7 linked regions of the Homo sapiens genome follow. The protein of the gene in region 7 purifies or fractionates together with the protein of the main gene of each other region. This does not show direct contact. Each region holds a gene or a part of one and is shown on either strand. Other genes may lie near its edges. The genes, in order: MRPL45, TPI1, SMARCE1, HNRNPAB, PKMYT1, HDAC2 and DPF2.

Region 1 (3,777 bases), on a different chromosome or scaffold from region 7:
AAGTGGTGGGATTACAGGCGTGAGCCACTGCACCCAGCCCAGAAAGGTCTATTTTTAAATTAGGCGGTTATTTTGTTGTTGAGTTATAGGAGTTCTTTATATATTTTGGATATTAATCCTTTATCAGATATATGCTGTGCTAATATTTCCCCCCATTTTATGGTTTGTCTTTTCACTCTTTTATTATTATTAGTTTTTGAGATGGAGTTTTGCTCTTGAAGCCCAGGCTGGAGTGCAATGGCGTGATCTCGGCTCACCGCAACCTCTGCCTCCTGGGTTCAAGCAATTCTCCTGCCTCAGCCTCCTGAGTAGCTCAGATTACAGGCATGCGCCACCATGCCTGGCTAATTTTGTATTTTTAGTAGAGACAGGGTTTCACCATGTTGGACAGGCTGGTCTTGAATTCCCGACCTCGGGTGATCCACCTGCCTCGGCCTCCCAAAGTGCTGGGATTACAGGCGTGAGCCACTGCGCCTGCCGTCTTTTCACTCTTGATAGTATCCTTTGATGCAAAAAAGTTTTAAATTTTGATGAAATCCAGTTTTTCAAGTTTTTTTCTTTTGTTACCATATCGAGTTTTTTCTTTTGGTGTCATATTCAAGAAATCATTGCCAAATCCAGTGTCATGAAGTATTTCCCCTTCCTTTTTCTCTAAGATTTTTATAGTTTTAGCTCTCACATTTAGGTCTTTGCTCCATTTTGAGTTAGTTTTTGTATATAGTGAAAACTATGTGATGTTTTTGCTTTTTTTTGCATGAGAATATTCATTTTTCTAGCACCATTTATTGAAGAGACTGTGCTTTCCCATTAAGTGGCCAGGCCGGTCTCAAACTCCTGACCTCAGATGATCCACCCGCCTTGACCTCCCAAAGCGTTGGGATTACAGGCATGGGCCACCGCCTGTCCTCAACAGTGGTTTTTGCAGAAATAGAGAAACACAGCCAGGCGTGGTGGCTAGTTCAACCTAGTTTGAATAATATCAACTTAGTTTCAATAATATACAAACGCTCTGCTCCTATATGTCTCTCCCTCCCACTTCATTATGTCTCTCCTGCTTCATTATCACAGATTACAGTTTTATACCTTGGGTGCCCATTACATCAATTCATAATTATTGTTTTATGCATTTGCCTTTTAAATCATACAGGATGAAAAATGAGGAATTATAAACCAAAAGTACAGTAATACAGGCTTTTATATTTATCTATGTAGTTACTTTTCCTACATAGTAGTAAAACATACATGTTTTTTGTTTTTTTCTTGTGGTTTTGAGTTACTTTCTGGTGTCCTTTCATTTTAGCCTGAAGGATCCCCTTTAGCCTTTGTTTGTTTCTTTTTTATTTTAAAGTCAGGGTCTCACTTTTTCAGCCAGGCTGGAGTGAGCACAGTGGTGCAATGATAGCTGCACTGCAGCCTCAACCTGCTGGGCTCAAGCGATCTTCCCACCTCAGCCCCTGAGTAGCTGGGACTACAGGTGTGTGCCACAGCACCTGGCTAATTTTTTTTTTTTTTTTCTAATTTTTTTGTAGAGACAGGGGTCTCGCTTTGTTGCCCAGGCTGGTCTCGAACTCCTGGCCTCAAGTGATCCTCTTGCCTCTGCCTCCCAATGTGTTGGGATTATAGGCATGAGCTGCTGTGCCCAGCCTATTGCCACTTTCAAGATTCATTCTTTGTGTTTGGGTTTTGACACTTTGGTTTTAATGTTTCTTGGTATGAATTTCTTTCAGTTTATCTTGCTAGGAGGTTTTTGAGCTTCCTGGATGTACATATGAATGTCTTTCATCAGATTTGGGATGTCTGCAGCCATTATTTCTTTTTCTTTCTTTTTTTTTTTTTGCATGTTATTTTTATTTTATTTTATTTTTTGAGATGGAGCTTTACTCTTGTTTCCCAGGCTGGAGTGCAGTGGCCCGATCTCGGCTCATTGCAGCCTCCGCCTCCCAGGTTCAAGTGATTCTCCTGCCTCAGTCTCCCAAGTAGCTGGGATTACAGGCACTTGCCACCCACACCTGGCTAATTTTTGTATTTTTTAGTAAAGATAGGGTTTCACCCTGTTGACCAGGCTGGTCTCGAACTCCTGACCTCAGGTGATCCACCCACCTTGGCCTCCCAAAGTGCTGGGATTACAGGTATGAGCCATTGTGCCTGGCCGCATTATTTCTTCAAATTTTTTTTCTATCCATTTCTTTCTTCTTTTTCTGGGACTCCTATGATGTGTATTTGGTATACTTGATGATGTCCCACAGGTCCCTCAAGGTTTTGTTCATTTTTTTTCCATTATTTTTTCTCTTTGCATTTTAGACTATGTAATTTTAATTACCTTATCCTCAAGTTCACTGATACTTTGCCTGCTCAAACCTGCTGTTGAACCCCTCTAGTGAATTTTAAAATTTATTGTACTTTTTAGCTCCAGAATTTCTGTTTGGTTCCCTTGTATAATTTCTGTCTCCAATGTGTTCACACATTGTTTTTCTGATTTCATTACTTCTTTGTCCATGGTTTCCTTTAGCTCATTGGACATATTTAGGACAATTGATTTGTGTCTTTACTAATAATTACAATGTCTGGGTTTCCTTAGGGGTGGTTTCTGTCAAATTATTTTTTGGTCAGGTGTGGTGGCTCATGCCTATAATCCAGTACTTTGGGAGGCCGAGGCGGGCAGATCACTTGAGTCCAGGAGTTCGAGACCAGCCTGGCCAACATGGTGAAACCCCAACTCTACTAAAAATACAAAAAAAGCTGGGTGTGGTGGCGTGCACCTGTAGTCCCAGAATCTCACTCTGTAGCCCAGGCTGGAGGGCAGTGGTGCAATCCAAAAAAAAAAAAAAAAAAAAAAAAAAAGCAAAAGTGTATTTGTCTGTTTTACATTTTATCCAACATTTCCTTTTTTTTTGAGACGGAGTCTTGCTCTGTTGCCAGGCTGGAGTGCAGTGGCGCGATCTTGGCTCACTGCAACCTCCACCTCCCAGGTTCAAGCGATTCTCCTGCCTCAGCCTCCTGAATAGCTGAGACTCCAGGTGTGTGCCACTGTACCTGGCTAATTTTTGTATTTTTAGTAGGGACAGGGTTTCACCATGTTGGCCAGGATGGTCTTGATCTCCTGACCTCGTGATCTGCCCACCTTGGCCTCCCAAAGTGCTGGGATTACAGGCATGAGCCACCGCACCCGGCCCATAAATCCACCATTTCTAAATGTTTATAGTAGAAGTAGTATTACATTATTGCAAAATAGTAAGTGAACTCATGGAAAATGGAGTTTATTTCCACTGAAGACTTCTATGCCAGGATAGTGGGGAGGAAGAGTTCACTCAGAGGTGCCAGTGATGGTCATCATGGTAGTTGTCACCACAGCTCAGTCTGTTCCTACAGTAGAGGAAATGACTTGGAATCTTTCCTATTAGGAATAGAGATGAAAGGGAAGCAGATAGACATGTTAGAACTAATCCCTTACCCATTCTGGGCTTAGAGAGCAAGATTTTTCAAAGGGGACAAAGAGTTAAACTGCTCATAGTAAACTGGGGAAAAGTCGTGTGTATCTGAAAGAAGCTAATCTATGGCCTTAGGTTTGAGACTCATCAGCTAGGAACCCTCCTAAAATCTTGTATCTATAGGAGCTAGGGTTTGTTGTCTGTTTTGTGTTTTTTTTGTTTTGTTTTGTTTTTTTTTGAGACGGAATCTCGCTCTGTCACTCAGGCTAGAGTGCAGTGGCGTGATCTCAGCTCACCGCAACCTCCGCCTCCCGGGTTCATGCCATTCTCCTGCCTTAGCCTCCTGAGT
Region 2 (4,245 bases), on a different chromosome or scaffold from region 7:
CTCAGCCAAGGAGAAGCCACCTTGGTGACGTTTAGTTCCAACCATTATAGTAAGTGGAGAAGGGATTGGCCTGGTCCCAACCATTACAGGGTGAAGATATAAACAGTAAAGGAAGATACAGTTTGGATGAGGCCACAGGAAGGAGCAGATGACACCATCAGAAGCATATGCAGGGAAAGGGCAGTTACTGGGCTTCTGGGCTGCTTAGTCCCTGGCTTGGCAGGAAGGGTAGGGAAGATGGATGGGGCTCATTGTTTGGCATTGATGATGTCCACGAATTCGGGCTTGAGGGAAGCACCACCCACAAGGAAGCCATCCACATCAGGCTGGCTGGCCAGCTCCTTGCAGGTTGCCCCAGTCACAGAGCCTGGGAAGGGAGCAGAACAAGGGCTTGGTCAAGAATGGGATGAGTCTGCCCCATCCCCACCTCCATGTCCGAGGGCTCAGTCTAGTCCTCAGCCCACTCCACCTCAGCCGGGAACCAAAGCCACTCACCTCCATAAATGATACGGGTGCTCTGAGCCACCGCATCAGAGACGTTGGACTTCAGCCATCCTCGGAGCTTCTCGTGTACTTCCTGGGCCTAGAACAAGAAGCTGGCCTAAGTAAGACCTTTTCTGCCTCTCTAAGAGGAAAAATCACTGGCACCAGTGGACACTTAGTGTGGTTTCTGACTGAGTCAGAGTACCAGGGCTCTGATCCAAGCCAGGCCCTGGACTGGATGCCCTTGGACAAGTCACTGTCTCTGGGTTCAAGGTCTCTGTGTCTTTGAAATAAGGGGTTGCCCCATGTGGGCTGTGTCTGTCCAAACCTATTGAGGCAGGCTGGGATGAGGGCAGGGCTCCTGGGCCCGGTTACCTGTTGGGGTGTTGCAGTCTTGCCAGTACCAATGGCCCACACAGGCTCATAGGCCAGGACGACCTTGCTCCAGTCCTTCACGTTATCTGCAGGGCAGAGATACAGATGGAGGGAAGGGTGAACAAGAAAGAGCTCTCCAGCCAGGTTCTCCGGAGTACGAAGAACGGTGGCCTACTGCCCCCTAGTGGACATTGGGGGATTTCCAGGTGGCATCTACCTTGGGGCTGGAGAAGTCATAGGCCCCAAGCAAAGATTGTCACTCCCCCTCCCCTTTTTCCTTTTCTGGATCAGCATGGGGACCAAGACAGGCTCCAGGGCCTGACCCTACCCTCTGAGTCTCTGTGGCCCTGGATAGGCTCAAAGGTCCCTTTCTCCAGAGATACCTGCGATGACCTTTGTCTGCTCGAAAACAACCTTCTCAGTGATGCCAGCTTCCCTTTCATCTAGCTTCTCCCCAATGCAGGCGATTACTCCGAGTCCCTCTGCCAGAGCATGGGCCACTTTCTGCCCAATCAGCTGTTGAGAAACAGACTTGGTGAGACATCCTTCTTGGAAAAAGACATCCCTTATCTTCTCTCTTGGCTACTAACCTCATCTGACTCCCCAAAGACATGCCTTCTCTCTGAGTGCCCCAGGACCACCCACGTGGCTCCGCAGTCTTTGATCATGCCAGGGCTAAAGGAAGAGATGAAGCCAAGGTTCAGCAGGGAGCCCACCCTGTGGCTTTCCCCTCAACGAGGAAAGTGAGGGAAGGGTCCCACACACCCCTCTCCACCTCGATCTCACCTGATCTCCCCAGTAAAAGCCCCATTAGTCACTTTGTAGCAGTTCTGCGCAGCCACAGCAATCTTGGGATCTAGCTTCTGCCGGGCGAAGTCGATATAGGCAGTAGGGGGAGCACAAACCACCTCTGAGGACAAGATGGTACCACAGGGGGATGAGACTAAAGAAAGCCTTCATTCCCCACAATTCCTAACCAGTGCCCTGGAGCCCCCCAGCCCTCACCCTCTTCTTCTTGGTTCTGCTCTCCCCCTTTTCACCCCAGCAAGATGACCTTTGTCCATTTTCCAGCCCAGGCTGGGTCTGCACTCAACTCGAAGAGCCTTCCAGATACCCCTGAGAGGCCACGGCCCTCACCCTGCCCTCTGCTCTTTTAACAGCTGGGGCTCCAATTTCCTCGAGCTATTCTCGGCATAGGCACCTCACAGACTCAGCATTCTCCAGGGAGCAACCCTGCTTCCCTTCTAAAATAGCCCATCCTCACCTCCCCTTTGCAAGGCAAGGATTTGTAGCAAAAGGAGAGGGGCCAACTCCTGGGGTTTGTATTGAGGCCTCTGGGGAATGAACGAGAAGGGGATGCCTCTTTGGATCAGGCCCGCGGCTCTCCGATTTCGGTGGAGGGAGGAAGGAGGATGGAGGAGAGCATCCTTTGCCCGTGGGTGGCAGAGACCTAACTGACTCAGAGGCCTTGCGCTTTGCTGTTTCCAGGTTGGGGAAAGCGGTAGGATGGCTCCTCACTCCCAAATCGCTCAGCCTGTTTGGCACGGGCTCGGTCCCTTCCGTGGAAGGCGGGAGTCGTTCAGGTTGCCGAAGGGAAGGGGTCAGATCTGGGGCTCAGGGAGCCCGAGCAGCTCGGCGCGGGGACGCGGACGCCGGCGAGGAAGGGGAGGAGTCTGGGGCTACGTGCGGCGGCGCACGGCGCGGGAGGCCAGGGCGCAGGGAGCGGGAAGCCCACGCGGCCCAGCCTCCCCCGGTCTCCCGCAGAGCCTCGGGCTCCGCTCCTAACCCCGTCGCCTGGCGGGCACAGCCCCAGTGCGCGCCCCGGGGCCACCTTCCTCCAGGAGACCCAAAACGTCCTTACCTGCCCCATAGTCCAAGGGGCATCATGTGCTCCGCCCTGCCCCCTCGACGCACCGACGGGGCTGCGGCTGCGAGGCCCCTGCCCGGACCCCAGCGGCCCTCGTCCCACAGCCCTGCATCAGGTCCGCGCGGATACCGGCCTCGGGGCCTCGGGGCCTCGGGAGAGGGCGCTGCCACTCCTGCCCCGGCCCCGGCCCCGGCCCGGCCAGACCCCTCCTCGGCGAGGGCTTACCGGTGTCGGCCGGCACCTTGGCCGCGTTCAGAGTGCCGATGAGCTCCCCCAGACTCTGCTTCCGCCCGTTCATCTTCCAGTTTCCCCCAACGAAGAACTTCCTGGAGGGCGCCATGGCGCTGGAGCCGAGGCGCTGAAGGTCAGTGTCTGCGCGCAGTCGCGGCCACTGCCCACTTATATAGAGCGCCGCGAAGTGGAACTCCGCCTCCTCGCCGTCCTCCGCCATGGCCCGCCCAGTCCCCCGGAGCCCTGCCCCCCGCCCGCCCTCCTGCCGCCGCCCCGGCCGCCGCCCGATGATGCACTGTTCCGACGTTCCCCCTTCTTGTGGCAACGTTCTAGGAGAGTCGGGGGCTCGGTCGCCTCCGCCTCGATTGCGGGGCTTTCGGGACAAGGCGAGACCTGTGAGCTCCGGCGCTCAGGGGAACCCTCGCTTGGCGACTTGAGTCCCCCACGGGGCCAGAAGTGGTTTTCAAGCGGAACTAGCTGGTGGCAACTTGGCCGTAGCCCAGATCGCCCACTGGGGCAGAGAGGGCCCCTCTCCAACTGTGGGATAGACAACCTCCTTCGCCCATCGGAGCAGCTCATGCCCGACTGCTGAGCAGGCACCCTTGTACCCAGGGAGTCTACCTGAGTGAAAACTTGCGGGACAAATGCAGGGTTCACAGCGGGAGGGGCAGCCCACACAGGCATAGGCCGCCAGGATCATCCCAACCCTCGCCCCGGCTGGCAAGGCCTGGCAGGAACTGCAGGGACTGAGTCCCAGCCTGAAGCCAGCTAGCCAGTTAGGGACATTTGGGAAATCCTCCACTCCTGTGTGAATAAAGAGAGGGAAGGGTTCTTCACTCCATCTTTCCTTGGCTTTGTGTCGGCATTTAGTCACTCTACTCCACCTCCCCACCCAACCCCAATTTTCCTAGAGCTCTAGAACCAGTGAAAAGTGGAGACTTGACTTTGGCAGGGAGGCGGCCAGAGTTAGGAGTTTTCTTAAGCGCCCTCCTGCTAACCCCAGGAAGGTAAGCCTCTCCCCCAAGGTATCAAACAGGACACAATTTAGCCGTTGTACTTTTATTCACATCGTGTATTTTGGCATTTTCCAGAGAAGGACAAGGAAGAGACAGGGTGGGGGAAAGACTGAGGCAGGAGGGCAAGTCGGGGGGTCCCTATTTCCCTCACATCCCTCCTTGACCAACCACACAGGGGCAAACAAAGGGGGAGGGGAGGCACAGGTGATCGCTCCACTGGGAGAGGATGCACAAAGCTACACCCACGCGCACAAACGAGACCCCTCCCTCCAC
Region 3 (3,777 bases), on a different chromosome or scaffold from region 7:
AAGTTTTATGTGCCATGCATATTTCATGGTATCTGAAAAAGAATTCTGACAAAGTGTGTGTATGTATGCATTTCACAATGCATACAATTTTTATGTGCATCAATACATGTTTTTCCCTGGCCTAAACATGTTGTTTCACAAGTGTAATGGATGGCAAGGTTTTCAAATGATAAAGAACATTTCAGTTTAAACAATGAACGGAATCAATCATGGATCTTAATGTTAATGCAGCAATTTTTTCACGGGCAGTAAACAAGAATGATTGCATTTAATAGCTCTATACAGTCACCTCTTGATTATCTATGTTAATGGAATAGAAATGATAACTATAATATTACAGTAATTTGTCTTTTGGTTTTGTGTAAGTATTTTGCTCTTAACTTGGATGTAGCTGTGGGGGATTCTCAGTTAAAAAAGTGAGATTGTTCGATGGAGACTAGGAAGAGAAAGTGTACTCCCTATCTGAAGTCACTCATCTGTTTCTTCCCATTCCTTCTTGGCGAATGTTAAGAACTGAACATTTGGCGTGGACACTAGCTACATAGTAGATTAATTATAGAGAGTTGTTGGACATGGAAAATTTGGTGTTTTGGTCCTTTGTGGACATTTACTTTGTATTATTGTCCTCTTAACACCAAATTGAAGTATAATCAAACTGCTATATGAAGAAGGGCCTAGAAAATGTGGAGGTTTTACACTACTTGCCCTGCTTTCTATATCTAGTTTAAGCTGTTAGGACTCAATGGCTCTGATTTTGACCATAATAAAAGCATTTTGATTTTACTATGACCCTAGTTATGCATTACTTTTGGGGGTGAGGGGAAGCTCCTGTATGGTATTGTTGTGCGCAGATTGCATTAGTGGTTTTCAAGGAACGAATCTGTGAAGCCCTGTCCAGTAGCTTGTGGTAGGCTGTAGAGAACATTGGGTTTCCCTGATGACTCCAGTATACTTGGGTAGTTCTCAGACAGTAAATACTTTGTATAGCATGTCGAGACCTTTTGGAGTGCTTATGATAGCTACAAGATGGAATTCACTCCTAGTCAGTTCTTCATTCAGATGATGATTAACATTCTCTTAAGTACAGGTGTGAAAACACATTGAGACAAAAATGTCTTTAAAAACAGCCTATTTCTGTACATTAATAGAAATTCTGCCCCAGAAGAAAGCTCTTAAATAAGTTCTTGCTAGAGAAACAGCTGAGAATTGCAAAAGAAACAACAACAAAAAACTGAGTAACCAAGATAAATTTCACAAAACCATGAACTTTATTCATAGGAGATTTCCTAGGACCTTGCTCTTCTGTAAGCACAGTTCTACCCGCCTCCCCATTGGAAATTGAAAGCAGAAAATTGGAAAGAGAGTTGCTGCTAGAGGTGGGTTTCCTGATAGTAGCAAGGAAAGAAACAGTTCAAAAATGGAAACACATTCTCCAAAAGCATAGCCCCTAGGCCGTTGAAAGAGTCAACAACAGATTTTGACATCTGACAGAGGGTTACAGCACAGCAAAACAGTGGTTGTTTCTAATTGAATCTTATCCAGAAAGGGTCTAAAGTATGTTCAGCTTTTTTTAAAGAAATGTTTAAGACATTGTAGAAAGATGTCTGTCTGAGACGTTAAATAAATTGGAGGTGTGTAATGATATAAATCTTTACTATCCTGAAAACCATCTGGAATTTAACTTTATTATTGTTTTGGGGTGTTTTTTTAGTTTGGGTTTTTGTTGTTGTTGTTGTAAGTTGACTGGTCTCAATATACAGATGATTTGTGTACCTTTCTTTGGGAGAAAGGAGGGGAAATAGCAATTCCATTAATATAAAATGTGATTCTTTGAAAAATATCAAAGAGCAAATACTACTGTGTTTTTAAAGTGTTTTAATTCATATTAAAGCTCGGAAGCATAGGCATTTTAGAATTCTTTACCTCTTTAATTTCAAAAAATTTTGACAGTGGTCTTACCACCTCAGTTATGGGCACAATTCCAACTTTATTTGTAATCCATTTCATGGAATTCTGAAGGTTTGTGTTGGATATGAGTTGGAAATACTTTCTAGTAACTTTATGTGTGAAGAAGCAGACTTGTGTGTGTCTGTTCCTCTGAATCCATAAGGTTAGTCTTATAGGAATTCTCTTTCCCCTTGAAAGAACTATAGACCCTGATACAGGTTTCCCTGTATTGGCTGCCCATCCTACCACTTTTGACAGTTTCCATGCCCCTGGCCATCTCACTCTCTTACCCACTGCTGGCCAAAAACAGTGTCTGTCTACCTGGGCACTAGCATGAGGTGTGACAAGAATGCATGGGAGGAATGGAAAGAGAGGAAATACTGCTTCCAAGGCGAAATGCTTTGAAGAAGTAGAGTTATAGGGATGGAGAGAGACCCTTGTAGGAAGAGGAAACATTTCTTGATCATAGTGGAAAAGGACACAAACATGCTAATCCCTGAGCCCTCAAATGAAAAATAAGGTTATGATTGGGGTCCCAGCCCAGAGTGGAGGAGTATCTCTGGGGTTTTATCATAGCAACAACAGAAGGGGAAGCGAACAAAATGTTACTTTAGTTTTCCTATAAGGATTTGCCAATCCTGTCTTTCGATAATTAAAATAAAGCCAACACTTCATTTCTCCAGCCTAGCAGGGAGAGTCAATATCAGAGATCTCCTGAAAATTTGCAAATTGTCTGAAATAGCAATGATTTTTCTTATTCTGGGTCTTTAATCAAATGCAGTCATGTATATTAACAGGAGACTAAAAAGTTCAGAAATAGATACTTTTAGATGGGTGTTATCTGGGTGGTCTACCAGAGGCTGTCTGGAATCTCACCTAGACTTTAAGCCACAGGAAAAACTGATCACTTTATCTTTCTCTTTCCTTCTTTTTTTATTTTTTCTTTCACCTATTTTTGCTTTACCTTTTTAAAAAATATTTTTCAGTCTTCCCTCCGCCTCCTTTTCTTCTGTCTCTCTTTTCCTGTACATCACATCTTTCCTTTTCCTCTGTCTTTCCCATAAAACTGAACATTTTTAATGGAATGGAGCTTCTTGATATAAGACCTCAAAAATAACGTAATCAGGCCCGATATCTGCCACTTCTCTGTTCCTGATAAACTTGTTTGCTTTTACACTGTGATTAGGACTCAGGACAAAACAATGTGTGACTTTTAATTCACACTTCTCATTCCCCTTTACAAGAAAACCACTAGGTAACAGACAGAACCTTAAGAGAAATAAAATCTCTAGCCTGGCAAAGGAGGTAAGGTGGTTTGTTATTTCACTAATTGTTTTTGTTTTTGAACCTGGGAAGTTGTTTTTGTGGTGGTGTTGGGAGTACATTCCTAGTGCTAATAGGTTAAGGCCCCTGTAGACAGTGTGAGAATGGTAAGTGTTAAGGGTTCAGATCCTGCTGCAGATAATCAAGTGTTGACTGTATGTGTAATGGTAATTGAGCAGAATAAGAGGGTACCAGGTAATGTCCTGAACTTGAGACGGTTGATATATAACCATATATTTTCAATGTATGGGTTACTGTGTAATATTTTATTTGTTCTTGCAGCCAGGTTGTCAAAGCATTGGCAATAAACTGCTAAGTAAAACATTTAAAAATTATGTGCTTAAAGTCATTTTCTTTTGAACATTTCTGAATTTGCAGTGATAGCTATTTTCAGTGAAGAAAATATTTGGACGAATAGAAGAAAGGCGCATTAGAATTTTTTAAGGGACTCTCTTTTCAGTTTGCCAGTGAACTCCTTACAGTTGAATAATGAATGTATTTAACTCT
Region 4 (4,172 bases), on a different chromosome or scaffold from region 7:
TTAAAGCTAGAGGTGACAGTTCTAGATTCTTGAGTCCAGGGGTATGAAGCCTGCAGTTTAAGGTCTCAGAAGATCCTAGAACTTCTGCAACTCACTGATTCTCCTCTGTGGTGAAGTTTTTCTTATTCCAGAGCCTTTCTACCTCCTTCTACAACCAAGTCTTTGTCCACTTCCATCCACTTTGAGCACTTTTTTTTTTTTTTTTTTTTTTTTGCTTTGAGACAGAGTCTTGCTTTGTTGTCCAGGCTGGGGTGCGGTAACACAATCATGGCTCACTGCAACCTTGACCTCATGGGCGGACCGGATCCTCCCATCTCAGCCTCTCGAGTAGCTGGGACCACAGGCATGTACCACCATGCCTGGCTCATATGTTTTTTTAAAGCCTGGTCTCACCATGTTGCCTGGGCTCAAGCCATCCTCTGCCTTGGCCTTGTAAAGTGTTGGGATTACAGGCATGAACTGCCTCACTTGGTCTTCTGGGCACCTCTTTAAGTTAACCCTAAACCCAGGCAAAAATCCTTCCAAAGATCTCCCAGGGTCCTGGCCAGCTTAAATCCAGGGTCAGTTGTGCTTTCAAATGAGTGGATTCATGTGCAGGGAGGTGTAGCTCTTCCCCTCCTGAACTCTGGTCAGGGAAAGGGTAGTTCAGGCTTCAAGTTGGCAGTTGGGAGTTGAGGGTGCGGCCTGCAGTGGCAGGGTGTGGCAGGTTCTGTTTCTGAGCAGGAGTTGGCAGCCAGATAAGGTGGGACAGGTGGAACTCCTGGAAGTCTCTATCCTGGCTGGGAGTTTGGAAAGAGTGGATTAGGATAGTCTTAAATTTTCTATAAAATGACAGTCTTTGAGGCAGTTAGGGGAAGCAGTGGTTATTACTCCAGTGGACAGTGATAGAGGCCTTTTTCTCTATGTGCCATAATGGGAAATGGGTGGGAAGAGCCTCTAAGGCAGAGTTTAAGTGAAACTACTGGTAGTGAGTCTTAGGAGTAAGTATATTTAGTTGGTTATATTCAGTATTTTTAATTTAGTAGGATAGAATATATCAGATTGCATTATTTTAATTTGCCAATTAAAAGTATGACTGGGACACTGTAAAATGTACTATTTTTAATGGGTGTGCATGTCAGGATTTTCTTTAGAAATACACTGGTCTGGTCTAATTTATTTAAGCAGGAGCACTTTAAAGTATCCCACCCTACCCCATTCCACCCCCAGTGGACAGAAAGGAAATTGACTGACTTGAGGGGATGCAGACATCTGGGTTATTCCAACAGACCAGTGGTTAGGAGGAGGGGGTGGGTAGCATTATGGCCTCGGGCAGGCCCCCCCACCCTGAGCCTCTGAAAGCTGACTTTATCTGTAAGAGGGAGGTCAGGCTCGCCTTCTCAATAGCGTGTATTTGGATGAGATGAGTTTCTTCTGTAAAGAGAAAAAGATGTTAAAACCTCATTGTCTAAGGCCCCTCATCTGAGAAGTCTTGTCTGACCCTCTAGCCCAGCAGGACCAAGGTGTGGTGCCTGGTCCCAGCCTGTCCTCTGCTCCCCTGGGCTGCAGTTGGCCCAGTTGCCTGCCTCCATTAGATACGGAGTTGCTCTGGGGCTGAGATGCCCATCTCAAGTGCATTCTGTCGGAAGGGTTCTCTGCTGGAAGGCCTTTGGTTTTAGTTGGGATTCCATGAGCTTTAGCCCAAAGGTGGCCTCCCATACTAGCATATTTTGTTTCTCAGCAAATGGACCTGATCCACCATTTGATGTTTGTCGCAGTGAAGGTGTTTGGGCAGTCACTGCCCTGAGTTTGTCCTACTGGCCTGACCACTGTCCTCTTGACTTTTAGTGTGAGATCAAGGTGGCCCAGCCCAAAGAAGTCTATCAGCAGCAGCAGTATGGCTCTGGGGGCCGTGGAAACCGCAACCGAGGGAACCGAGGCAGCGGAGGTGGTGGTGGAGGTGGAGGTGAGTGGAACGTGGATGAAGATAGGTCCTGTTTCCCTGCCTACATGGAGCCTTCCAAGCCTGTCTTGGGGCTCCCTCTGGTGCTGTGCAGCAGGGGTGGGCAGATTGTGTGAGGTTGGGGACGAACAGGAATAGGAACGGCTCTGGGTCAGGGCTGTATGCTTGAGGCTGTTGCCTGCTGCTGCCCCTTGGAATGGCTTGGGTGCCCAGGGCAGAGAGAGCATTTGTGTTACACTCTGGGGGAGGGGATGTGATGGGTGTCTTGGCTTTGTGGATGTCCTGAGTCTGGTACACCTGTGAGCAGGTAGGCAGAAGGGTGGGTAGGGCAGAGCTGTGCCAGGCATTTATCCCCTTCCATCCCAGGCCCCTCTGACTCCAAAGCCTGAACTGCATCTTTTTAAAGGCTAAGCTGCCAAGGAGAGTGGGAGTGATCAGAGAGTGACTGAGTGAGTGAGCTGCCTTGTTTGCCCCAAGTAAAGTTAGCATCCTGGTCTCTGATCCTCTGCTTGGGTCTCTCAGATGCAGGGTTGGGCCCAGGGCCCTTATACACCAGAACAGCAGCCCCTTGGCTTCTGCCTGAGTTGCCACAGTAACCCTGCCACCCCAAAGGGCAGGATTTCCTCCATCCTAGCTCCTGCGTATGCTAAATGGTCCACGGGCCCCTGTGCCCTGCTCCCCCCACAGGTCAGAGTCAGAGTTGGAATCAGGGCTACGGCAACTACTGGAACCAGGGCTACGGCTACCAGCAGGGCTACGGGCCTGGCTATGGCGGCTACGACTACTCGCCCTATGGCTATTACGGCTACGGCCCCGGCTACGACTACAGTAAGTAGGAGAGAGGGAGGCCCCATCCGCTCACCCCTCGTCCCCAGGGGAGGCAGGACAGTGTAGGAGCCACTGGCAGCAGGGGCTTTGGAGTCAGACAGGCCTGGCTCAGCCATGGGAGCTACTTGATTTTGAGCCTTAGACTTCGGGGTCTTAATAACATGAGGAAGGCAGTCTCTGCTGTCACGGCTGGTGAGGGTCCTGGGAAGATGCATATCAAGCGCGTGGCACAGGGCAAATGCTTGTAAATAGTAGCTGCTATGGTTGTTCTCGTCCCTAGGTCAGGGTAGTACAAACTACGGCAAGAGCCAGCGACGTGGTGGCCATCAGAATAACTACAAGCCATACTGAGGCGGCAGCAGGAGCGACCAACTGATCGCACACATGCTTTGTTTGGATATGGAGTGAACACAATTATGTACCAAATTTAACTTGGCAAACTTTCTATTGCCTGTCCCATGTGCATCTTATTTAAAATTTCCCCCATGGAAATCACTCTCCTGTTGACTATTTCCAGAGCTCTAGGTGTTTAGGCAGCGTGTGGTGTCTGAGAGGCCATAGCGCCATCATGGGCTGATTTTTATTACCAGGTCCCCCAGAAGCAGGTGGGAGGCTCTGCTTCCTGCTGCCGCTCTGCAGCCTGGACCTGTGGACCCTGGTTGTAAAGAGTAAATTGTATCTTAGGAAACCAGTGTCACCTTTTTTTCACCTTTTAATTTTATATTATTTGCGTCATACATTTCCTGTAACGGAAGTGTTAATTTTACTGTACTTTTTGGTACCTTTTGGGAATCTAATGTATTGTAAGGTATTTTACACGTGTCCTGATTTTGCCACAACCTGGATATTGAAGCTATCCAAGCTTTTGAAATAAAATTTAAAAACCCCCAAGCCTGGGTGAGTGTGGGATATGCTGTGTGAGACCTCTTGCTCAGGGTCGAGGGAGGCGGGGGGGGGGTGCCAGGTGCCCTGGACTTGGGGCTTTCTCCTGCAGCAGGCTCTTCCAGCTGCAGGCCCAGTTGTGGGGGTATCCTTTAAGGACTGCCCTGCCTAGGGCTGAGCCCCCCTTCAAAGAAAGGAATGAGAGGCCTATGGGGAGTGAGGATGGGGCAGTGATGAGGGCTTACATCCCCAGCAGGCATGTCCCCTCCTGGGACACCTTGGAACACCAACCTTCTTGGCTGATGAATGAAAAAATGGGATTCTTTACACACTAGGGCAGTGCCAGGGCCGTCTGAATTGGGGCACAATAGTGCTCCTCCTGGCTGGTGAAGAAAAGCCTGCTCTGGCAGGGGATGTTTATTGGCTGGATTGGAGCCCAACTCCAGGTCTGGTATTTAGGGCATAAGACTAGGTGGTTACAAGAGGCAAGGGTGGGTTGGGGTTCCACGTGGATACAGCC
Region 5 (4,290 bases), on a different chromosome or scaffold from region 7:
GGGCACACAGCAAACAAAGGTTTACACAAGAAAACCTGCCAAGGCCTGGGAATAATGGCAAGCCTGTTGGCACCTGAGCCATGACACTCCTGCCCTCCCACCTCCAGCACCCCTCTCCCCCCGCCTAGCACTGGGGGCAGGTGTGGCCAAGAAGAAGGGCTCCCTCTCCCCCAGCTCCCCGTCAAGGGTTAGGGTGTTTGCCCAGGAGGGCCAGGTTCTCAGCACTTCTCAACCCTCCCAGCTCCACATGGCAGAGGCTAAATTCCAGCTGAGTGTGGCAGACAGGCCAGGGGCTCCTTTCTTCCACCTGCCCCCAAGCATAGAATAGAGGCTATATCTCAGGCCCGGCAGGCTGGGAACATGGAGCCCCAGCTCATTTGTAGGAAGGAGGCTCCACACTGGGAGAGGGCAACCAAGAAGGCCAGAGGCTCCTGCCCAACCCAGCGACCTGCTCCTAAAGCAATAGCAGCACTCAGAGAGGTGCCCCGCTGTCCTGCCCCCAGTTCCACAGCATGGCTCAGACAGAGATTTAGCCTAGGGGTAGACGTAGGTCATAAATAGAGCTCTCCCCACCCACCAACCCCCTGAAAATTGGCTTGATTTGAAACAGTGCGTAGGGAAGTTCAAGTTTAAAGGGGCTGTCAAAATCAGTGGAAGTTTTGGTGGTGCGCCATTAAGAAGAGACTGGTACCCGCATTAGGGCAACCAGCTGAACCATAGGCCAGCTAGTTTACCACAGAGAAGTGGAGAAAGAGCTAGCTAGGAAGAGCCTGCCTGCTGTCAGAACAAACCTCACTGACCTCAAAAGCCACCCTGTCAAAGGAGCTCAAAATTAATTGGATCTGGCCAGGCACAGTGGCTCATGCCTGTAATCCCAGCATTTTAGGAGGCTGAGGTGAGTAAATCACCTGAGGTGAGGAGTTCGAGTCCAGCCTGGCCAACATGGTGAAACCCCATCTCTACTAAAAATACAAAAATTAGCTGGGTGTGGTGGTGCATGCCTGTAGTCCCAGCTACTCGGGAGGCTGAGGCAGGGGAATTGCTTGAACCTGGGAGGCAGAGATTACAGTGAGCCAAGATCATGCCACTGCACTCCAGCCTGGGCAACAGAGCGAGACTCTGTCTCAAAAAAAAAAAAAAATTTAATTGGATTGGACCGTGGAACACTTTATGCCCCAAGGTATTGTTTGTTTGTTTGTTTTTGAGACAGGGTCTCACTCTGTTGCCCAGGCTGGAGTGCAGTGGTATGATCTCGGCCCACTGCAGCCTCCGACTCCCAGGTTCAAGTAATTCTCTTGCCTCAGCCTCCTGAGTAGCTGGGATTACAGGCGTGTGCCAACACACTAGAATAATTTTTATATTTTTAGTAGAGATGTGGTTTCACCATGTTGGTGAGGCTGGTGCACCAAAGTATTATAAAAAACAATAGAGCGGCTGGGTGTGGTGGCTCACGCCTGTAATCCCAGCACTTCGGGAGGCAAGGTGGGTGGATCACTTGAGGTCAAGACTTCGAGACCAGCCTGGCCTACATGGTGAAACCCCATCTCTACTAAAGATACAAATTTTTGCCGGGCGTGCTGGTGCATGCCTGTAGTCCCAGCTACTCAGAGGCTGAGGCAGGAGAAATGCTTGAACCCAGGAGGTGGAAGTTGCGGTGAGCCGAGATTGCGGCATTGCACTCCAACTGGGCGACAAGAGCAAAACTCCATCTCAAAAAAATATACATAATAGTAAATAAAAAATTAAAAAGAGCAGTCTCCAGTACCTGAGGGAGTACAGGGGTGAGGGGAGCGATGCTACCTGGGCCTGGCTGGCAGGCTGCCCTCCATCTTGTGGAGACTCTTCCTCTGACTCTAACTACCTCAGAGTCCCAGCCCAGGGTTTCTCCAAGTCAGGAGCCAGGGTGTTGGGATCCTGGAGGTCACTGGTCACAAGCACAGCCTCCAGGCCCAACCCTGGCACACTCGGGGACCTGGGCCTGTGCATCTTAACCCAGTTCTCCCACCGTCCCTGCCCTACGACTTACGTTCTAGCATGACTGGCCTGGCCCAACAGCCTCAGTGGTGGGACGGGGGAGGCAGGAGCAGGGGCTCCCACGTGAATCCAGGGTGTCCCTGAGCTAAGGCCAGGCGGGGGTGACCTCCGCAGCTTCCGGGGCCCTGGGCGATCGGGCCGTCTCGCCTCACCCTCTCACCAGGCCCGACACATCTGCTGGCCACCTTTCCCGGTAGACGGTAAGTTCCTCCCAGGCAGGGCCGCGGCTGACTTCACTCCGTGGGTGTGGGGAAGCCCTGGCGAACAGAGCAGTGGACGGGCTGTCACGAGGGAAGAGGGGCTGTTGCAGAAGAAGAGAGGCTGTCCCGGGGCAGGGGCTGTCACGGAGGAAGGACTGTCACGGGGAGGGCGGCGGCGCGGGGTTGATGGACAGCAGGCGGGGTCTCCGGGAGGGGCGAGTAGGGCGGGACCGCCGCTGGGAAGGGGCTCGAGGCAAGGGAACCAGGAATTGGGGAGGACGGGAGGCAGGGGCTCGCGGGGGCGGGCCTGAGGGGACGCGAGCGGGCCGCCGGGGAGGCCTGAGGGGCAGGGGTAACGCAGACCTGGCGAGGCGGAGGGGAGCGGCGAGGTGGCCACGCCGAGGCCCCTCACGGCGGGGTCTGGGCTCACCTGGGGCGACTGGGCGGGGCGCGGGTCCGCGAGGGCCCAGATTCCGGGTCCGCGGAGGCCACGGGACCCCTCGGGTGGCTCAGCGGGCCGGAGTCTGCCGTCGACTGTTCCGGACGCCCGGGCGGAGGACTCCCGTGAGGGGGAACGGCCCGTGAACGCGCGCGGAGCTGCTCGCGCCAAAAATTCCAAACCGGCCTCGAGGCTCCTCCCCCTCCCCAGTGCAGCCCGTCAGGGGTGCCCGGGCTCCGAGGCTCCGCCCCTCGTGCTGCGTGCGCGCCGCCGAGCCGCCCCGCCGCTCACTGCGCAGGCGCACAGGATTCTCCGCGCTGGCCCGGGGCGTGGGTGGCGGCCTGGTTCTGAGTCGCTGCGCGGGGCTTCAGCCGCCCAGTCCCTGGGACGCCCACTGCCCTCCAGGCCTCGCACCCGACACCCACCGCCCTCGCTGGGCTGGCGTAGTGTTTGGGTCCATAAAAGGGACCGCCATCCCGGTGCTCGGAGCAGGCGTAGCCCCAGGGTTACTCCGGGTAGGACCAGGAAGTCCCTACGGCCTCCTGGGTCCCGGCACCCCCCTTCTCACTCCGGCCGTGTTCTGAACCAGGGTCGCGGTGGGAGGCCAGACGCACGACCCCCAACCCCTAGCGCACGGCTTCGGGAGCCAGAAAAAGCCGCCTCTTCCAGGAAGCTCTCCAGATAGGCAGGACTCTGCTTGGCCTGACCTCGCCTGCCTGCAGCTTCCCTGCCAACAGGCCTCAGATACTTTTTTTTTTTTTTTTAGACAGGGTCTCACTGTCACCAAGGCTGGAATGCAGTGGTGCAGTCCCCAGGTTCAGGCGGTTCTCCCAACCTCAGCCTGCCGAGTATGTGAGATCACAGGCGCGCGCCACCGCACTCGGCTCATGTATTTTATTTTTAGACAGGGTCTCATTCTGTTGTCCAGGCTGGAGTGCAGTGGGGCGATCTCGACTCACTGTAACTTCCGCCTCCCCCGCTCAAGCGTTCCTCCCACCTCAGCCTCCTGAGTAGCTGGGACCACAGGCGCGCGCCACCACACCCAACTAATTTTTGCATTTTTTTGTAGAGACGGTGTTTTACCATGTTGGCCAAGCTAGTGTCGAACTTCTGACCTCAAGCGATCCGCCCGCCTCGGCCTCCCAGAAGGCTGGGATTACAGGCGTGAGCCACCGCGATTGGCCGCAGGATCATAGTTCACTGCAGCCTCGAGCAGCCACTTCCGGGGCAGCTCCTCCATTCTCTGAGTTTGAGACTTGCTCTCAGCTCAGATCCCTTCAGCGCTCTCCTGGCTGAACGACCTTGGGAATGCACTGAGCCTTTCTGAGCTTCGGATTAGTCTCCTCTCCTGGAAAAAAAAAAACAGCTGAGGACGCTGGGATGATCCCCTAAAGTGATTAGCAGGGGCCCTCGCGGAGCAAGTCGGGCTAGGGATTGTTCCTTCCCTCACCGAGGGGCTCTTTATCTGTTTAACTGGGTGGGAGGAGTACGCTTCCGGCCAACCCTCCCCCAAACGCTGGCCTTCTCACTCTCACCTCTCCTTCCGCCTTATTTTTGCTATTGCCCTGATCTCTGTCCGATGTTCTATCTTTTGTTTGTGAGTTTACTTGTTGACTA
Region 6 (3,777 bases), on a different chromosome or scaffold from region 7:
TAGAAGCATGGATTTTGTAAAAGCTGATTGTTTATCCCGTACTGTTATCAAATATGTAGGAGAGAGGACAAAAAAGTTTTTGGGGTTGTTTCCATTAAACAAACAAAAGGTGTATTTAGGGAGGACTTTGAAAGATTTAGTGGATAAATTGCATTTTTTATTCTAGCTTTTATTGTAATATATAAACCCGTGTTGAAATGATAGACTTCAAACCATTAAAATAGCTTGACTGTCCTGACCCTGTGGGGAATTAGTTCCAAGACTTCCACAGATAGCAAAATTCATGGGTGTTTAAGTTCCTTCAATAAACTGGTATAGTATTTGCATATAACCTATGTATATCTCCCCTTACACTTTAAGTCATCTCTAGATTACTCATAATACCTAATACAATGCAAATGCAGTGTAAATAGTTGTTACACTGTATGATTTAGGGGAAGATTACAAGGAAAAAAAGTCTCTACGTGTTTCCAGCAGACACCACCATCTATTTTTTAAAAATATTTTCAGTCTGCAGTTGATTGAATCCACAGATACAGAGGGTTGACTTTATATATTTGAGAGGCTTCTTGTTATTTACTATTATAGGAAACACTGGAGCTTTACCTAAAAGTATTAATTTTATTGAAATTTAGTTGATGAAAATCTGTGATTTTGTTATTTTCTCTTTTTTAAATCTTATGCATAAGTTTAAAGACATTGTGATATAAGATGCCGTTTAAAAAGACAGGCTAGGAATTACAACTTTTTAGTCATGAAGAATGAGACAGTATTTTTATTACCTTGAAAAATGTAATGCTGTGTCTTAGTGGAGCAAAACCTCATTTAGGACCTAAATTTCAGTTACCAAAACTTCCCTGATGGGCTTTAATATGGACACGGTATGTTTTAACATGCAAAACGCCAATTATGAGATTTCTGAAATGCCAGCAAATCATCCAAAAAGCAGTATTTGCTGAAAAAATTTTAAATCATACCAATAAAACTCAGAGAACTTAAAAGCATGTGAATTTGCCAGAGAATACAGAAAGCAGGCATCATTTCAAGGAACAGAAATTTTAAAAATTGGGGGTAGCTAAAAATCAGAAAAGCTTGCTTTCCTTAATCTACAAATAAATATAATGTGTAATAATGGAGTCTTCAGCTGGTAAAAGTGTGCGTAGCGTCTTAGTCATCTGATACAGTTTGAAAGTTGCAAAATAAATCTAAGTTGCTAAGGTTTTAAATAAATTTTGTTAAGTAGTAAATGCCTTCTAATGATAGACATACATAAATTCAAATAGTTCATGGAGGGTCTCTTGTCTGTATTGTTTAGTTTGTGTCTTTTCTATTTTAGGTGATATTGGAAATTATTATTATGGACAGGGTCATCCCATGAAGCCTCATAGAATCCGCATGACCCATAACTTGCTGTTAAATTATGGCTTATACAGAAAAATGGAAATATATGTGAGTATTCCTTTTAATACATATTCAGCACTGATCTTTTTTATTTTTTTTTAGCTACTGTGAAACTTTGTCTATTATTCCCCTTTTGAGGGCATTTAGCAGATGAAAAGATCTGGAAGAAAACAAACTTCTTTTTTCGTTTATTCTTAGGAGATGAATAAGAATGAGAGCTATACCCTCTTTTTCCTTTTCCTTTAACCATTTAAAAAAGTTCCCCCTACCCTAGGCTTTCATGGTTCTGGAGAACAACTCAGTATAGCAACAACTCAGTGTAGCATATTAAGTATTTTTTTTTTTTTTTTTTTTTTTACAATAATTGTTAATCTGCCTGTGCTGCTGAAAAGAGTTGACCTGGGACTGTTACAAAATAATAACACATAAAATTAATCCCACAAATATTTGCAGGGCATATAATACATATGGAATACTGTGTTAGTGTGGCCAAGCATAGTACAGATAACACAAGTGCAACAGCTGCCTTAATGTTTTTGTAGATAAAGATGAGGGTATGTATAAACAAATACAGACACGACAATTAGCTATTTGGGGAGAAAAGAAATATTTAAAACAATTAATGCTAGGCAATATATGTGAATATGTGAATTATTTTCAGTTACATGTAGACATTTAGAGAAGAGGGGAAGTTAGAATAAGACTCAGTCTGGAAGTCTTGTGGAAGAATTGTGTCATACGTGAAATTGAGCTCTTCGGAACAAGGAAGATTAGGATAGAAAAAAGGACGAGAGGTCGTGAACAAAGATTTAGAATTGAAAACTCTTGTAGTGAGTGATTTCATTGATGAAATCACTGGATGTTTTATCATGGAAAAGGAGAGAAAGTAGAGTTTATGAACATATGGATTTGACTTTTTACTCGAACTGTTTCCACTAAAATAAGGAGTGATTAAATCATAGTTGATATGCCTGTGTAATGCTTTTAAAGGAGTTTGAATTAGTTTTGAGATTGATTACTGTTTTCTAAAACACATATAAGTTTGGGTTAGTTTTGGAATTTATATATTTTGTTCTGGTAGACTTGGTTCTTTTGAGGGGACCGATAGGGGAATTTGTATATTTGTTTGATAATACTGATATAACCGGTTGTAATTCCACAGTTCTGACATTTATTTCTCTTCACAGAGGCCCCATAAAGCCACTGCCGAAGAAATGACAAAATATCACAGTGATGAGTATATCAAATTTCTACGGTCAATAAGACCAGATAACATGTCTGAGTATAGTAAGCAGATGCAGAGATGTACGTTTCTAAGTAAAAAGTAGTTTTGCTTTGATAAATGTAAATTAGTATTTTTAGGAGCTTAGAATGATCTAAATCTGAATATTTTTCCTGTTGGTCTAATATGTTACAGTTATTTACTGATTTGAAAAGTCATTTTAACACTACTAAAGCTACTTAAGAAAAAAGTAAACCTATCTGAAGCTTATTGGTTTGCAAAACTGCTGTTTGGGTATTCTTCTACTCCTAGTTTGCTCCCCTGATAACTTTGGGTTAATACATATTGGTAGGGAGACCTCACTCCCTTACTCCCTCGCTTCAAAAAAACAAAAACAAGATTACACTTTGATTAGCCTTAGCTTGGCATGTACATATCTCTTGTCTTGTCTTTGTGTACTTCAGTTAACCTGGACTATAATACACATCTCTTTTTCTTTGTTAAGATATTAGTGAAGCTTTTGATTCTACGTAATGTTCTCTTGTACAGGTTAAAAGTATTTTATTTTTAGAGATTAGTAACAAATTGGCTTGAAGGTAGAATGCAAAAGTCAACCTAAAATTATTGGAACAGTATCTTTTAAAGCTTGATACCAAAGTTCATTCTCATTAGTGTTTGTATTGACTGACTTCAGTGATGATTATACTAAATTAGTGTAGGTGCTAGACATCTCATATTTACAACCTCATACACATTTCTGCCATATCTTGTTTGATTTGTTATAATGCTACAATGTAACTAGAACATGTAGTATTTAATTTTTTTTTTTTCAATGAAGATTCCAACTTAGATGCAAAAGAGGCATGAGTAGCCCTTGGGCAAACAACATAACAGGATTGATTTAAAACCCACATAATAATGAGTTCTATTAAGCTTATGATCCTGGCCAGGTGTGGTGGCTCACGCCTGTAATCCCAGCACTTTGGGAGGCGGAGGTGAGTGGATTACCTGAGGTCAGGAGTTCGAAACCAGCCTGGCCAACATGGCAAAACCCTGTCTCTATTAAAAAAGTACAGAAAATTAGCTGGGTGTGGTGGTGCGCGCCTGTAATCCCACTACTCTGTAGGCTGAGACAGGAGAATTGCTTGCTTGAG
Region 7 (3,777 bases):
GACTCTGTCTCAAAATAAATAAATAAATACATAAAGAATAAATAAATAGCTGGGTGCAGTGGCTCACGCCTATAATCCCAGCACTTTGGGAGGCTGAGGCAGGCGGATCACCGGAGGTCAGGAGTTCGATACCAGCCTGGCAAACATGGAGAAACCCCATCTCTACTAAAAATACAAAATTAGCCGGGTGTGGTGGCACGTGTCTGTAATCCCAGCTACTTGGGAGGCTGAGGCAGGAGAATCACTTGAACCCAGGAGGCAGAGGTTGCAGTGAGCTGAGATTGTGCCACTGTACTCCAGCCTGGGCGACAGAGCAAGACTCCATCTCAAAAAAAAAAAGTAAATAAATAAATACATAAATAACCATGTCACTTCCCGAGTAAAACCCTTCAACAGTGTCCTGTTGTACCTAGAATAAAACCCGAGGCCCCAGAGATCTGGCAGTGCTTGCCTCTCTCATCTCATTGCCCACCATACTCTCCCATGCCCTGTCATCTGGCTTGTCCAACATAAGGCCTTGGCGCTGGCTGCTCCTTTCCTGGGATTCCTCTACCTCCAAATCTTGACTGGCTCCTTGGTATCACCAAAATTTCAACACCAGCATCACCCTCCCAGAAGAGCCATACCTGACCATCAAAATAAATCACTTATGCAATTATTCTCTGCCACAGTACTGATTTCGTTTTTTTCATGGCACATTATACAAATCTCATTTACATCCTTGCTTATTGTTGTTCCTGTAAGAATGTAAATCTCATGAGGCAGGGACCTTGTTTGTCTTTAGCATCTTTAGTGACTAGAACAGTGTCTGACATAAAATCAGCACTCAATATATATCTGGCAACAAATCAGAGTTCTGACTGAGATGCTAGGGAGGGGCGTGTGGCATGTGGGAGGGATCCTGCTCCCTTTTTAAAAGAAAGCTCACTTTAGAGGGAACTGTGCAAACAGCAGTAAAAGCCCAGAAGGAGCCATGCTGAGGAGGGGGCGGGGATACACACGTCATTCTCGGAGGTGCCGCAGATATTGCAACATTTGCACTCGATGCACTGCCAGCGGTATGTCTTCACTGCCGCCATCATCACGGGGGTAAATTGGAGGCAAGATGGATGCCCTGTAGTGGGGGAAGTGAGTGAGACAGACAGTCGGAAATGCGGGGGGAAGAGAGGAGCTCCTGCCTGTGGCTACATCTTCTCTTGGTTAGGAAAAGCGAGGTGGGCTGGTTATGACAGCCCTAGAGGCCAGCAAGCCAAGAGCCCCTTGGGGACTGGGCAAAGCAGCAGCCTTCACGGGAAGCAGTACCTGAGCGGCCACAGTCAGAACAGGACACCAGCTCCTCGGGTTGTCCCGTCTTCTTGTTAATCTTTGAGTCCCCCAGGCAGAAGTCACAGTAGTTGTTGGGCAAGGCCAATCCATCAGGACCCTTTTTGGCTACAGAGAGAAAGAGTTTTGATGACACCCATGGGGGTCCCTGAGCCACTCAACACCCATGCAAGGAGTGGTTTTCATAACCAGGCCAACTTCTGCTTGCCCACCACTTCTGACACCTCAGCTTACATTTCTGCTCCTCAGACCTCTGGGAAACAGGAGTGGGTGGTTGAGAGTCTTCCTTGTCCTCGCCCTCCTCCTCAGCCAAGTGGGAGTGGGCATAGTGGTAACTGAGGCCTGGTCGGTTCTTGTAACGTTTTCCACAAACTGAGTGGGAAGAAGATTGCAGAGAAAGGTGTTAGGATACAAGAGTGCCATGTCCCCATCCCTGCAAGCTGTGGGGGCTCCACCTGAGGCAGAGGGCAACCATCCCTTCCCCTAGCAGCTCCACTCTGGGACAGGCCTTGAGTGACGGCCACTTCCCCTCAGCCAGGAGCATCAGGCCGTGGGGCTCTCTAGCTTCTGGGGCTCTTTTCCCTCCTGAACTCCAACCCCATGGCCACCACTGCTCTTCCATGTTGACTTTTGGGGGGCTTAGCCCTTGCCCCATCACCAGTTAGTTGCTCTGGGATATACTAACAGTCTGGGACGCTCCAGGTCAGGAAAGGGAAGGATATTCCTATATCTTTGGGGTGGCAGGAAGGGGGAAAAGTGGATAAGACTCCAAACTTTTTTACCCCTCAGTAAATGTGGGAGGCTCATGCTACCCCACACACCATGGAGCCCATCTCCCCTGAATGTGGGTAAACAAGCAGGGGATGGGTTTCTTGGGGATAGCCTATCAATGAAGCCAGTTGGGCAGTTGGTCCCCAAAGAAATTCAAGCACACTCCCATGTAATTGCCCTGTCCAGGCCTGCCAATCAGCAAGGAAAGCAGATCCCCATGAGGCATTTTGTCATCTTGAGAAGTAATACCAAGAAGGGCAAGGGGGCCAGCAGGAAAGGAGTGGGGAGAGAGGATGGCAGGAGGAGGTGGTGGGGCAGTGGGGAACATGAGCTGACCACCAGCTGCCTGGTCTGGGGAGGGAGCGGAAGGGTCTGATTGTAATGGGCTCCTGATAATGCTTCTGAAGCCACCCCATGCACTGGGCCGAGCAGCTCTAGGAGCAGGTTTGTGGGAAACAAGCAGTGGTAAAGGCAGCCTTCAGGACTTTGAGGAGTAGAGCACAGCAGAAATTCCACTGCTCCTACCCCCATGCCATTCCAGAGATTTTAAAGCTAGCATCCCAGGAAATGAGAAAGGCAGGAGGAACAAGGGAAGAGGGAAAAAGGGAAAGGAAAACCACAAGTCTGAAAAGTTGAGAGAGCTACCTCTCTGGGGCGCTTTCGAGGTATGCTTTTGTTTGAAACTATCTGAAAGACAGAAAGAAAAGTCATGAGAAGAAGGCCTTGATACACTTGAGACAGGAGCAGCAGCAGCAGGAAAGCAGAGCAAACGAGAGAGAAACCCCAGCGGCGATGGTGCTCCCAGGGTGGAGGGACAGAAGTGGGGCAAGGCAGACAGAAAGAAAAAGAGAACAGACGTTGAAAAACTCAGTGTCAGACCCCTGGGGCCCTGGCTTAACTGAGGCCAGGAGACCTGCAGGCCATCTGTTGAGAGGCCAACCCTGCCTGCTGTGGCCCCCACAAGCAACCCTACCCCAGAGGATGGCAGAAATCTTTCCCAGAGCATGCAGGTCCCACCCGTCATATAGCAGGGACCCAGGCCTCCCAGGGGTCTCAGACGGAAGCAGTCAGCAGGCAGGACAAGAGCCCAGGTTTGTTTTAATACTCTGGGCAAAAACACAACCCTCCCTCCTCTCATATCCAGAGCAGGAGCTGGGTCCAAGGCAAGGTCTACCCACCCACTTGTGAGGCACTCACTGTCACAGGCATAGGGCTTATCCCGGTCCTCCAGGATGGAAGCATCCAGCTTCTTACGGGCACTGCCCACACCCTTACCCTGCCAAGAAGAGCAAAGAGACACCCTTATTTTGGTAGCTGGGCCTGAGGAGTTAGACTCTTTTGGAAGTGGCCGCTAATCTCACTTGAAATAAAATAAGGAATTCCCTAGGCCACCCTGTCCCAAGATGCAGGCAGCACGCTGGCCCCTCACCTTGGATTTCCCCTTTCCCCGACGCTTGGGAGTATCTTCTTCATAGTCTTCATCATCGAGGTCATCCAGGAAGTCATCTGGTTCTAGGATCCGCTGAGTGGACAGGAGGGTTAGCATGGGTAGAAATATGTGCATCCAAAAGCTCCCCTATGATGAGACTGGCCAAGGCCACCCAGAACCTCCTCTGTGACGTGGTCCCACCCACACCAGCCTCATTCCTCACCAACGCCTTTCAAGCATGCTATAATCCTGCT

The links.
Region 1: the proteins of DPF2 (region 7) and MRPL45 purify together in Homo sapiens (affinity purification with mass spectrometry, with the first as the bait; one large-scale study listed by BioGRID). This does not show direct contact.
Region 2: the proteins of DPF2 (region 7) and TPI1 purify together in Homo sapiens (affinity purification with mass spectrometry, with the first as the bait; one large-scale study listed by BioGRID). This does not show direct contact.
Region 3: the proteins of DPF2 (region 7) and SMARCE1 purify together in Homo sapiens (affinity purification with mass spectrometry; 11 studies listed by BioGRID and IntAct, with this or other methods). This does not show direct contact.
Region 4: the proteins of DPF2 (region 7) and HNRNPAB purify together in Homo sapiens (affinity purification with mass spectrometry, with the first as the bait; one large-scale study listed by BioGRID). This does not show direct contact.
Region 5: the proteins of DPF2 (region 7) and PKMYT1 purify together in Homo sapiens (affinity purification with mass spectrometry, with the first as the bait; one large-scale study listed by BioGRID). This does not show direct contact.
Region 6: the proteins of DPF2 (region 7) and HDAC2 purify together in Homo sapiens (affinity purification with mass spectrometry; 2 studies listed by BioGRID, with this or other methods). This does not show direct contact.

What each region holds. Positions count from the first base shown.
Region 1 is NC_000017.11:38,313,924-38,317,700, forward strand, and holds part of MRPL45 (large ribosomal subunit protein mL45), read left to right. Parts: intron 1-3,777.
Region 2 is NC_000012.12:6,866,387-6,870,631, reverse strand, and holds the start of TPI1 (triosephosphate isomerase), read right to left. Parts: upstream 3,066-4,245; coding exon 2,951-3,065; intron 2,528-2,950; exon of another isoform or gene 2,123-2,527; intron 1,769-2,122; coding exon 1,645-1,768; intron 1,534-1,644; coding exon 1,449-1,533; intron 1,375-1,448; coding exon 1,242-1,374; intron 945-1,241; coding exon 859-944; intron 584-858; coding exon 496-583; intron 368-495; coding exon 249-367; 3' UTR 1-248. UniProt on the Homo sapiens protein: Triosephosphate isomerase is an extremely efficient metabolic enzyme that catalyzes the interconversion between dihydroxyacetone phosphate (DHAP) and D-glyceraldehyde-3-phosphate (G3P) in glycolysis and gluconeogenesis.
Region 3 is NC_000017.11:40,637,580-40,641,356, reverse strand, and holds part of SMARCE1 (SWI/SNF-related matrix-associated actin-dependent regulator of chromatin subfamily E member 1), read left to right. Parts: intron 1-3,777. UniProt on the Homo sapiens protein: Involved in transcriptional activation and repression of select genes by chromatin remodeling (alteration of DNA-nucleosome topology).
Region 4 is NC_000005.10:178,207,503-178,211,674, forward strand, and holds the end of HNRNPAB (heterogeneous nuclear ribonucleoprotein A/B), read left to right. Parts: exon of another isoform or gene 1-779; intron 780-968; exon of another isoform or gene 969-1,413; intron 1,414-1,827; coding exon 1,828-1,945; intron 1,946-2,629; coding exon 2,630-2,770; intron 2,771-3,050; coding exon 3,051-3,121; 3' UTR 3,122-3,661; downstream 3,662-4,172. UniProt on the Homo sapiens protein: Binds single-stranded RNA. Has a high affinity for G-rich and U-rich regions of hnRNA. Also binds to APOB mRNA transcripts around the RNA editing site.
Region 5 is NC_000016.10:2,977,622-2,981,911, forward strand, and holds the start of PKMYT1 (membrane-associated tyrosine- and threonine-specific cdc2-inhibitory kinase), read right to left. Parts: upstream 2,826-4,290; 5' UTR 2,665-2,825; exon of another isoform or gene 2,598-2,664; intron 2,373-2,597; exon of another isoform or gene 2,292-2,372; 5' UTR 2,037-2,291; coding exon 2,027-2,036; exon of another isoform or gene 1-2,026. UniProt on the Homo sapiens protein: Acts as a negative regulator of entry into mitosis (G2 to M transition) by phosphorylation of the CDK1 kinase specifically when CDK1 is complexed to cyclins. Mediates phosphorylation of CDK1 predominantly on 'Thr-14'. Also involved in Golgi fragmentation.
Region 6 is NC_000006.12:113,957,578-113,961,354, reverse strand, and holds part of HDAC2 (histone deacetylase 2), read left to right. Parts: intron 1-1,336; coding exon 1,337-1,449; intron 1,450-2,588; coding exon 2,589-2,706; intron 2,707-3,777. UniProt on the Homo sapiens protein: Histone deacetylase that catalyzes the deacetylation of lysine residues on the N-terminal part of the core histones (H2A, H2B, H3 and H4).
Region 7 is NC_000011.10:65,343,584-65,347,360, reverse strand, and holds part of DPF2 (zinc finger protein ubi-d4), read right to left. Parts: intron 3,617-3,777; coding exon 3,524-3,616; intron 3,371-3,523; coding exon 3,292-3,370; intron 2,782-3,291; coding exon of another isoform or gene 2,740-2,781; intron 1,696-2,739; coding exon 1,558-1,695; intron 1,432-1,557; coding exon 1,303-1,431; intron 1,115-1,302; coding exon 1,002-1,114; intron 1-1,001. UniProt on the Homo sapiens protein: Plays an active role in transcriptional regulation by binding modified histones H3 and H4. Is a negative regulator of myeloid differentiation of hematopoietic progenitor cells. Might also have a role in the development and maturation of lymphoid cells.